Regions from separate parts of the Homo sapiens genome. Here region 1 is linked to region 2. The links come from fine-mapping of genetic effects on gene expression. A gene starts in region 2. The other region holds a variant in brackets. All regions are shown on one strand. Distances are from middle to middle.

Region 1 (5,376 bases), 22 kb after region 2:
CTGTATTGAGGAGGAGCAAGAAATAAGGTTGGAGGTGTTCGCGAAGGGTTTCAAAGGGCAGGCAGAAGAGTTCAGATTGTGTGAGGTGGAAAACAAATAAGGTTTGTTATTTGGGGCCCTGGAGTGCCTTGGAGATATCCTGTCTCTGGAATATCTGGAATTGCAACGGGAGTAAGAAGTTAGAAGAGCGGCTGTAGATGTGAAGAGGAGGAAAGGATCCAGGGGAATCGAAGTGAGGAGGTTGGCTTTTGTCTGTAGAATCAGGTCTGGTCAGAGAGGAAACTGGGCAACGCAATCATGATCTCAGGGGAAGCATCATGATTTGGTGGAGTTGAGACTGGGGCCGTGGACTGCAAACAAGGGGTTTGGGGATATTTCCTATCAGGAGCAGTCTCACATCCATATAGGGGTAGGCCACTGTGCACTTTTTATGTGAGAGGTTCCATAACGTTTCTCTTCCCTTACTTCTCACCCTCACCAACTTGTCTGAAATTCCCACCATTCTCTAATCCAATTCCCATTATGGTTAGGTTAAGGTGTGGAATCACTATTTAAAATTCAAATATAGGCTAGGTGCAGTGAGTGGCTCACGCCTGTAATCCCAGCACTTTGGGAGACTGAGGCAGGAGGATCACTTGAGGCCAGGAGTTCGAGACCAGCCTGGGCAACATGGCAAAACCCTGTCTCTACTAAAAATACAAAAACTAGCCAGCCGTGGTGGCTCACACCTGTAGTCCCAGCTACTCCGAATGCTGAAGCACAAGAATCGCTTGAATCCGGGAGGCGGAGGTTGCAGTGAGCCAAGATCGCACTACTGCACTCCAGCCTGGGTGACTGAGACACTGTCTCAAAAAAATAAAAATAAAAATAAAAATAAAATATTAAAAAGAAAATGCAGAAAATGCAAAGATTTCTAGGAGGGATACCCAGACCAATATCTGCACTTCAAATCTTAGAAGTTAAACATTTATCAAGACATGATTCTGTACACCCTCCATTCAAGCCACCAGAAATCTGAGACAGAATCTCATGTGTCTGAGACTCGACCACTCTGATTTTGAAGTGAAATTATTTCAAATGCTTAAATGGGTAGCACTGAGTGTTTGTCTGTTATTTTTCCAAGCCCAGCACCTATTCCCCGTTCTGGTACCAGCATGCTAGATTTCCTTTGGGATGCCACCCCACCTCCTGTCTCAGGCTCAGTGAGCATGGGAGAGATCTACCCTTCCACCTGGCAGGTGGAACGCCGGACTCTGTTCTGGCCAATCAGAGCCCAGGGATGGTTATGCGCTCTAACTTGGTCCAGTCAGAATGAAGCCTCTAATTTAGTTGGGGAGGAGGACCATTACTGAAAGGGATTCCCTCTCTCTTTTGCTGGGACCCCCTGGGATTACAGATGACCTGCAGCCACTGGGGGCTACCCCAGGGCTCCTGAGAGAGAAGGTAACACTGAGGAAAGGTAGAGCTGAGACAGGGTTAAACCAAGTCCCAGTGACATAGTTTGAGCCACAAGATCAGTGGTGCCTGAAACAAGCCCTAACCTTAGACTTTTCAGTTATGCGAATCAGTGAAATTGTGTGGTTGTTGTTTGTTGGTTTGGTGTTTTGTTTCATTTTGTCTAAGTCAGATAAAAATGGATTTTCAGTTATCTTGAAACTGAAAATCTGCTGACTGGCACGCCATCCCGCTGGCTTGTGTGCTGTGCACATTAACAAGACTCACCTTTTCTTAGGATTCATCCTATGTGCAAGATTACCAGGATGTAGCCAGATTCAGGATGCCTGTTTTTATAGCTTAGCTACAGAGTTTTTCTTCACCTCTAGCAATTGCCTATGCCCTTTCAGCGGCCTCAGCAGGGAGAAGCACAGTGGGACTCCTTGAAAGGCAGATCCAGAAGGCTGGTTATGTGGACAGTTCACCACAGTTAACTGGGGTAACCACAGTTGGCCTGGGCAGTCCAGAAGCAGATGACCCACCCCCATACTGTGGGCAGCTCTTCCTGCAGTGCTTAACTCCAGAAAAAAACCCTCCACCAGTTCCTTACTAAGGTGGTAAACAACCCTAAGAAATCTGGCTCTCTAAGCTTGGGACAGCCAAGAAATGAGTCAGCCTTCTGGAGAAACCCCCCTTGCCACAGCCTGTGCTTCCCCATTTCTGCC[AGGGCCC/C]CAGCCCCAGCCCCAGCCCCCATGTCAGTAAAGCCTATGCATTTCTTTCAAGAGCATGACAAAACCTCATATCTGAAAAGCACTGAAGTGCTGTACCTCTTTCAAAGTACTTGTGCATTCATTATCTCATTAGGATACCAGATTTGCTATTTTTTTCTTCAGATTCTTTTTTTTTTTTTTTTAACTCAAATCCAGCAGAGTTTTTTCATGTGGTTCTCAATGAGACTTGAGAAGAGAAAATCAGAATTCAATCCAAAAGCACAGCTTTTCTAGAGACATAAATATAATCCTCCTCTCTCATGCCAAAAATAACAAGGGGGCAGAGGTTAGATTCTAGAGGAAAGAACATTGAGTGTGAACTGAAACCTTTCTAGTTACAGATCTACCACTAAGTAGCTGTGTGACCTGGACAAGCCCCTTAATCTCTCTGCACTTCAGTTTCTTCCTTTGTAAAATGGCAGCATTGAGGCTTCCTGGGAACCCTGGCCTTGATATTTTCTAAGCATCTTTGAAGCTCTGAGGTTTTATGGCTCGGTGAATTGTAGAATCTGAGGAGACTGATTTATAAGCAAGTTGGCACGTTTTTTAAGCCCAGTCATTCCTTTGGTGTGTGCAAGGGAGAGCCCCTGCTCAGAGTGTCAGGAGCCATAGCACATTGGGATGTAGACTGAGCATGGCCCACTTCCCAGAGACCCCAAGGCCTGCCTTAGGCCCACCTCTGATGGTGGTGGTTGGTTGGTGGTGGTTAGTTGGTTAAATGAAGGGTGAGATCCTGACCACTCACTAAATGCTGAACTCTTGATAGATTAGGAGGAAGCTCTGCTATCTGTGGGATGAGGCACAGCAGATGATGTGGTTTGGCTGTGTTCCCACCCAAATCTCATCTTGAATTCCCACATGTTGTGGGAGGGACTGGGTGGGAGATAATTGAATCATGAGGGCAGGTCTTTCCCATGCTGTTCTCATGATAGTGAATAAGTCTCATGAGATCTGATGGTTTTAAAAATAGGAGTTTCCCTGCACAAGCCCTCTCTGTGCCTGCTGCCATCCATGTAAGATGTGACTTGCTCCTCCTTGCCTTCCGCCATGATTGTGAGGCTTCCCAAGCCATGTGGAACTGTAAGTCCATTAAAGCTCTTTCTTTTGTAAATTAGCCAGTCTCGGGTATGTCTTTATCAGCAGTGTGAAAACAGACTAATACAGCAGATGTCAGATTGGTTCTTGGAATGGAAGGTAAGCGAACTCTAGTGTTTACTGAAGACAGGGCCTATGTAGGGATTGGCAGGGTAGGGTGGTAGGCCCTATTTAGCAGTACAGAGACTGACCCAAGGCACTTTTCTTGCTGAGTTCAACCTTCTTTTGCAACCCTTTCTTCTGGCAAGTGCTTTCTGCCCAGTGGGGAGGTGAAAGGGTCCCTCACCTTCATGAACCCCTTCTGTGTGAATATACCCTCCAATAAATCCTGGCTCTTCTTTCCATTTCCAATGACTACTTTGAGAAATTAGGATGTCAGTGGTTCATCTTGTCTCATGCAAGCCTGAATTATGTATTCTTTAAGAACAGTGACTATGATCCATCAGACTGTCTTCCACCTGTCATTCAGCATGGCTTTGGCTCTGAACTCTCCACCAACCTTTTTCCTTCCCTGCAACACACACATTCAAAACTAAAATAACCCATTACCACCACCACTAACAACCCCCCCCCCCAACCATCCCATTATAGATCATATCCTCCCAGGAAGTTTTTCTTTGTTCCTAAATTAATTCATACCAATGTGGTGATGGCCACTCAGGCTTGTTACTTGTCTACCTGCCCTACCACGACTCTAAATATGTATTTCCATTTTAACAGGAGATGTTGGATCCAATTTGTCAAAAACTATCTCATTAAAGGAACAAACTTGTTTCAGCATCAGACTTATGATGTGATATTTTTGTCTTAATCCCTCAAAGTACTGAGAGAAGGTTGGGTACTAGTGAAGTCAGAGCTATTAGGGGGCACCCTGGCTAATCAGGCCTTCCTCTGGGCCAGCAGTGCCATCCTATTTATACCTACAGTTTTAGCATTCAGAACAAAATCTTACTACACAAAGAAATTTATAGATTTAATGCAATTCCTATCAAAATACCAACGACATTCTTCATAGAAATAGAAAAAAAATCTTAAAATGTATATGGAACCACAAAAGACCCTAAATAGTCAAAGCAATCTTGAGCAAAAAGAAAGCTGGAGGCATCACACTACCAGACTTTAAAATATCCTACAAAGCTGTAGTAAGCAAAACAGCATGGCGCTGGCATAAAAACAAACACATAGAACACTGGAACAATAGAGAACCCAGAAATTAATCCATGTATCTATAACCAACTGTTTTTTGACAAAGGTGCCAAGAACCCTTATTGATAGTCTCTTCAATAAATGGTTGAGGCAAAACTGGATATTCATATGCAAAAGCATGAAACTAGATTCCTGACTTTCATCCTATACAAAAATCAACTCAAAGTGGATCAAAGACCTAAATGTAAGACCCAACCCTATAAAACTACTAGAAGAAAACATGGGGAAATGCTTCAGGACATGGGTCTGGGAAAAGATTTTATAAGACTTCAAAAGCATAGGCAACAAAAGTAACAATAAACAAATGGGATTATATCAAACTAAAAAGCTTCTACACAGCAAAGGAAATAATCAATAGAGTGAAAAGACAATCAACAGAATGAGAGAAAATATTTGTAAACTATTCATCCAACAAGGGATTATTATCTAGAACATACAAGGAATTCAAACACTTCAATAGCAAAAAAGCAAATAATTCAATTTAAAAAATGGGCAAATGGGCCAGGCATGGTGGCTCACACCTGTAATCCCAGCACTTTGGGAGGCCAAGGCAGGCAGATCATTTGAGGTCAGGAGGGTGGATCACTTGAGGTCAGGAGTTGGAGACCAGCCTGGCCAACATGGTGAAACCCCCTCTCTACTAAAAATATAAAAAATTATCCGGGTGTGGTGGTGGCACATGGGTGTAATCTCAGCTACTCGGGAGGCTGAGGCAGGAGAATGGCTTCAACCTGGGAGGCAGAGGTTGTAGTGAGCTGTGATCGTGCCACTGTACTCCAGCCTGGGTGACAGAGCAAGCCTGTCTCAAAAAAAATAAAAATAAATAAAATAAATAAATAAAAGGGCAAATGATCTGAACAGATATTTCTCA
Region 2 (5,376 bases):
CTTAGATCCAGCTCTAGGTCTTGAAGAAAGAAAACAGTCCCCAAAATGATTCATTCATCCTTAAATAGTTCACTGAGGCAGAAATTGTTTCTCCTTTAGAGGAGAAAGATTAAGGTCAGAGAGACAGATACATTGGCTTAGGGTCACACAGTAAGTTGGTGCCAAAAAGATGCTGAGCCTCTTGTCTTTCAGTGTGCTATTTCTAGAGCCTCTGATTTTTTATGAGTCTACTGTAGGGCCAAGAAGGGGCTCTATTCTAATTTGGGGTGGTGCTAGCTTGGCCACCCACGTCTTCTGACCTTGAATGAAGCATTTTTACCAAGGTAAATGGGTCTGTGGAGCCAAACTCTCTCCTGGCTGAGATCTCTCAAAGTCGTTTGTCCGATAAAAGGGGGGTAGGGTGGAGGTAGGGGGTAGGGAAGCTCGAGAAAAAAAAAATGACCAGGAACACAAGTGTAACAGATGCACCCAGCTGTTGTCACTGGCGAGCACAGACAAGGGTGAGGTACCAATGGCTCCAAGGGAGACAGTCTCGGCAGATAAAGGAAGTCAGAGTGACGACCTAAAGTCCCTGAAATGCTAGTGCTGGCTCCGAGGATGTCACGTCACTGGCCTGGCACACTCAGTGAGCACAGAGACTTCACTGATACTTGCCCCTAAGTGGGGAGTCTCTTAGTACATCCCCCAGCACTGGTAGAGTGGTAAGGGATTTTCTTGTGTTTTTCCCTAACCTCCAGCTGAAGCAGAACCTAGACTATGGGAACTTGGGTTGACTGGTTAACTACTAATACTGCCCATACCCCAGCTATAGCAGCAGCCATCTGTGCTGAGGACTTCCCCCAGCGGCACTGTGGTTCAGTAGAAAGGTCACCAGACCAAGCCTGCTAACCAGCTGTTGGACCTTGGACAAAACATTTAACATCTCTGTGCTTTAGTTTTCTACATTTTATAGACATAAACACAGATGCTGGACAAGATGTCTTCTAAAATTTTTTTCCAGTTTTACAACTGAGCATTTGATAGGAGCACAAGTTTCATTTTCCCCAGGAGTAGGATGGCTGAGTGCGCTGTCATCACCACCCTATGGGATTTCTCTCATTTGTCCCAACAGGCCAGCACTTATGGGCTTTGTGTCTGCACCTCACCCCACGGGCCCTGTGAAACCTTTCCAGCAAATGGCTTAGATGTCTGTTCTGCTCCCTCCCCTAGGAAACATATTTTAGACTCAATTCTTCCCTCCTGCAAGTCTGAACTTTAGGTCTCCAGCTGAAGTGGGCAAGGATGGTGGGCTCCAGAAGCAGCAGCTCTGGTGTGGTAGGAGCCAGAAGAGGAGGTGAATGGGGGAAGGATGTCCCTATGTTCTCACACCCCAGGACCTCCAGGACTCTCTAGCCAGGAAACAGGGTCGAGCTGGCATTGCATGATCTGGTTCAGCTCAATTCTCAGCTTCAGCAGTCTTTCTGCCACCCCTGATCACACTGGGTTGGATTTGTGGGGGAGGGAGTCAAGGCCTGCAGACATGAACATACATGCTTAGGTCGGTCAAGTCAACAATGAACGGCAGAGTGGGATGGGAATCCAGGTGTCCGGAGTCCCAGCCCAATACTTTTTCCACCCCAAGCAGAAGATTCTGAAAGGACCCCTGGCCCTCCGGCCCAACACGGGGTCCTGTTTAAAGACACTGGTGATTGCCAGGCTCCAGGGGTGAAGTCTGGTCCTGAGAAGGGTGGCAGGGAGGGGACAAAGTTTGGGGCAGTGCTGGGATGGGAAAGACATCTGCACCTGGAGGCCATTCTTCCTAGACTTTGGGGGGGTGGAGGTGGGGGTAGATGAGGCCTGCAAAAGGAAGAGATGATGCCAGTAACCCATCCTCTCTGAGGTGGTGGAGAGAGAGGTTTGGGTTTTTCCTTCCTCTTCTTTCTTTGCCAGCCGGGCCTCCAGGCCCCCAGGCCTGAAAGTCAGCCGCCACCCCCGACCCCCATCATGAATGTGTCAGTGGGTCCGCCTTGGGCCAACAGGCTCCCTCAAACCCACATTTCTAGCCTAACACAGACCCTCCTCCGACGCCCCGAGAATACCCATCAGTCTTTACTGATTCCCTGGCATACCCTCCTCCCTACAACGCCCCCTGCAGACGCGGCGTCCCCGGGGTGTCCCTCCCCAGGATAAATTCCCCCAAAGTGCCGTCAGCCCAGAAAACTCGGCAGTGCGGCTCCCGCGCGTGGGGCACCCCGGGCCACCCTTCCACCCCGCGGGGGGACCCCGCCGCCCAGGTGCCCTCGACCCCGAGACTCACCCAGAAGAGCATGTTGAAGAAGAAGAGCAGGTATTTCACCAGCGGGCTGACGAAGGAGAACTCCTCCCCGGAGGCGGCCGGCGCCCGGGGTCTCCGCGCCATGGCCCCGCCGCCGCCACCGCCCCCGGGGGCCTATTTCCCAGCGGCTGCCGGCCGGCCTGTGTGCCCCGCGCCCGGGGGCATGAGCCGAGCCGCGCCGCGCAGGAGCCCGGCCGGCGGGGGAGCCTGCGCTGCGGCGGGAGGCGCCCGAGCCGGGGGGCCGGGAGCGGCGCGGGCCGGGGAACCGCGCCTGGAGCTGCTGGAGCCGCGGTGGGCAGCGCGAGCGGACGAGACTCACCCGCGGCCGCAGGACCAGCCCGGCCAGCCAGGCGCCCAGGAAACCCGGCCCGCCCCCGGCCGCTCATTGGCGCGACGGCTGGAGCCCGACTTCCCATTGGCTCGTGGCTGATGTCACTAAGTATCCAGCCATCCCTCTCCACCGAGAGTCGGGGGAGACACCTGTTCTGTGAGGGATAACTTGTTAAAGGGTCAGCGGTTCTGCCTCTCCCCTACCCCTAAGGGAAAGCATCCAGGCTGCAGCTGCTCAAAGGAACAAGAGTGAGGAGAAGGAATGCACAGTGCATCCCACACCCACGTCCTCCGCCCAGCTGCTGTGCACATATGCAAACACACATACATTAAAATCAACAAGTACGCACACCGTGTGTTGAGCAATGCGCCGAAAGCTCTGGGAACGCGGGAGAACAGAAACAATCCCTGGGGGATGACAATAAAATCAGGGAGACAAAACTAACCTACACATAACAATTAGACCAAGGGTAGATGCAATCTTGTTTAGTAACTATACATTTTAAATGCTTATTTCAGAAGCTCTACAACCCAACAGTGGAAATTTGGAAACATCACCGCCAATCCCGCCATCCTAATTCATTGCTGTCTCAATTCCCGCCCCCGCAGCCCCTCTTCCCTTGGTCTACTTGCAGACACCGTTTTTAACATGCTGATCCGGCACACACAGGTTGAGTGCAGCGTAGCTGGCGAATATATTATGCTGGCTACCCTAACTAATACAAGTTGAACCTCGGGGAGGGAATCTGATTCCACCATAATTAGCTGCGTGAAAGCTGCAAGCTACTTAATCTCTCGGAGCCTCAGTTTGTTTAATGTTAAATGGGAGAGTCCTGACCTAGATGGCGATTTGAGGATTAAATGAGATAATGCATGTAGCTCACTTAGCACATGGCTGGCACATGGAAGGCTCATCAAAGGCATTACAGTATTTCGTTTTAGCAGAATTAAGAATCCAGTGTGGAAATATGATAACCGCACAAATAATTATAATACGTTTGGTAGAAGGTTAGTGAAGATAGCGTGGCAAGTGAAATTAGGGGAGGATGGGATTTAGAATAGTAGAGACGGAGGGGAAACATAATCCAGGTGGATTAAAAAAAAAGGGGGTGAACCAAAGCCTGGAGGTGCAAAAGCACGCCATGTGTTTCGTGCAAAATAAGCAGACTGCTGTGGCTGGAGCACAGGGTATGCTTGGAATAGCAGTGGGACATAATGCTGACCGATGCCGTTACATGTGGAATTGTGTTAAAACTGCGGAAGTAATTGAATATCAGATTGGGGAGTTAGTGCTTAATTGACTTGGAAATAAGAGTTTTGGAGAAAAGGATGATGGAAAACCCATGGTTTTCAGTTGGAGTGGGAAAGAGGCTGGAGAGAGAAAGATTTGTTAGAAGCATGCTGCTCATCATCCAGATAATCAGAAATCAGGAACTGATTTAGGAGTAATAGACAGAATAATAGATGGTTAGGAGAGGATAGAAGGGAAGGCATTGGAAAGATAGAATCTCTAGGGCTAGGCTGTGGTGACAAGCAGGCATAACAGGAGCACCAAGAGTGGAGGTTAAAGAAGGCAGTCACAGCCAGGTTACTGGGAGATTACTGGCCCTTAACAGGTTAAGTGACACTGGAGATCAGTTTTAGTATAAAGCAGGTAGGGTGGGCAGAAGTCATTTTCCAAGAGGTTAATGAGTGAATAGGTAGGTGCCATTTTCAGATGTTAGTGCGGGGAGGATAGAGAAATAGACCAAGATGCTGAATGTTTCTATTAGATGATCTTCCAGAAATCAGTTTTATTTTTTTGAAACGGAGTCTCACTCTGTCGCCCAGGCTGGAGTGCAGTGGCCTGATCTCAGCTCACTGCAACCTCCGCCTCCCTGGTTCAAGCGATTCTCCTGCCTCAGTCTCCCAAGTAGCTGGGATTACAGGCGCCCGCCACCATGCCTGGCTAGTTTTTGTATTTTTAGTAGAGATGGGGTCTCACCATGCTGGCCAGGATGGTCTGAACTCCTGACCTTAGGTGATCCACCTGCATGGGCCTCCCAAAGTGCTGGGATTACAGGCATGAGCCACTGTGCCCAGCCAAGAGATCATTTTTAATTGAGACGGGAAGAAGAAGGAATATCACAGTGTCAAGGAAGGAATGGGTGGTGAAATGGAAGCTGTGAACGAAACTGTGGACATCTCTGTCTGGCTTTGAAGGTTATGGGAGCCTTAAGGGACTTCAGAGTGAAGGGAAAGTTCTCTGTTAGCATATAAGAGACCTAACATGTTCGTAGGAAACAAAACAAAACAAAACAAAACAAAACAGTCAAGAGGGATTAAGGTGGATAATGGCTGGAATGAGGTTTTGGAATTAACAGGTAGAGATGGGATTAGCCTTCAAAGTGATGACCACAATGTCCCTCATGTGGAAGTCACGGACGGCATCACAAAGTAGGAAGCCATGCAGCTATAGAACAAAGAATTAGGAAACTCTCTCTGTACTGAGTTGGAACGATCTCCAAGTTAACTCATTACGTTTAAAAAGCAAAATGAGGCCGGGGTGGCTCATGCCTGTAATCCCAGCACTTTGGGAGGCCGAGGCAGCCAGATCACGAGGTCAGGAGATCAAGACCATCCTGGCTAACACGGTGAAACCCTGTCTCTACTAAAAATACAAAAAAATTAGCCGGGTGTGGTGGCGGGCACCTGTAGTCCCAGCTACTCGGGAGGCTGAGGAAGGAGAATGG

Evidence for each region. PIP is the estimated chance that this variant, and not a neighbour inherited with it, causes the effect.
Region 1: its variant is fine-mapped to the expression of TSPAN33 in monocytes after Pam3CSK4 (Quach 2016, PIP 0.95).

The regions. Positions count from the first base shown.
Region 1 is chr7:129,119,537-129,124,912 of GRCh38, reverse strand. No RefSeq gene overlaps it. Among named protein-coding and RNA genes, the nearest start is that of TSPAN33, 22 kb to the left of the region's middle. RefSeq lists enhancers at 1,789-2,058, 2,509-2,678. The variant AGGGCCC/C (reference allele first, on the strand shown) is at 2,160.
Region 2 is chr7:129,142,003-129,147,378 of GRCh38, reverse strand. It overlaps TSPAN33 (tetraspanin 33), which reads right to left and starts at 2,672. Exons shown (of 8, transcript NM_178562.5): 1 at 2,297-2,672. The coding sequence starts at 2,398. RefSeq lists a silencer at 2,550-2,759.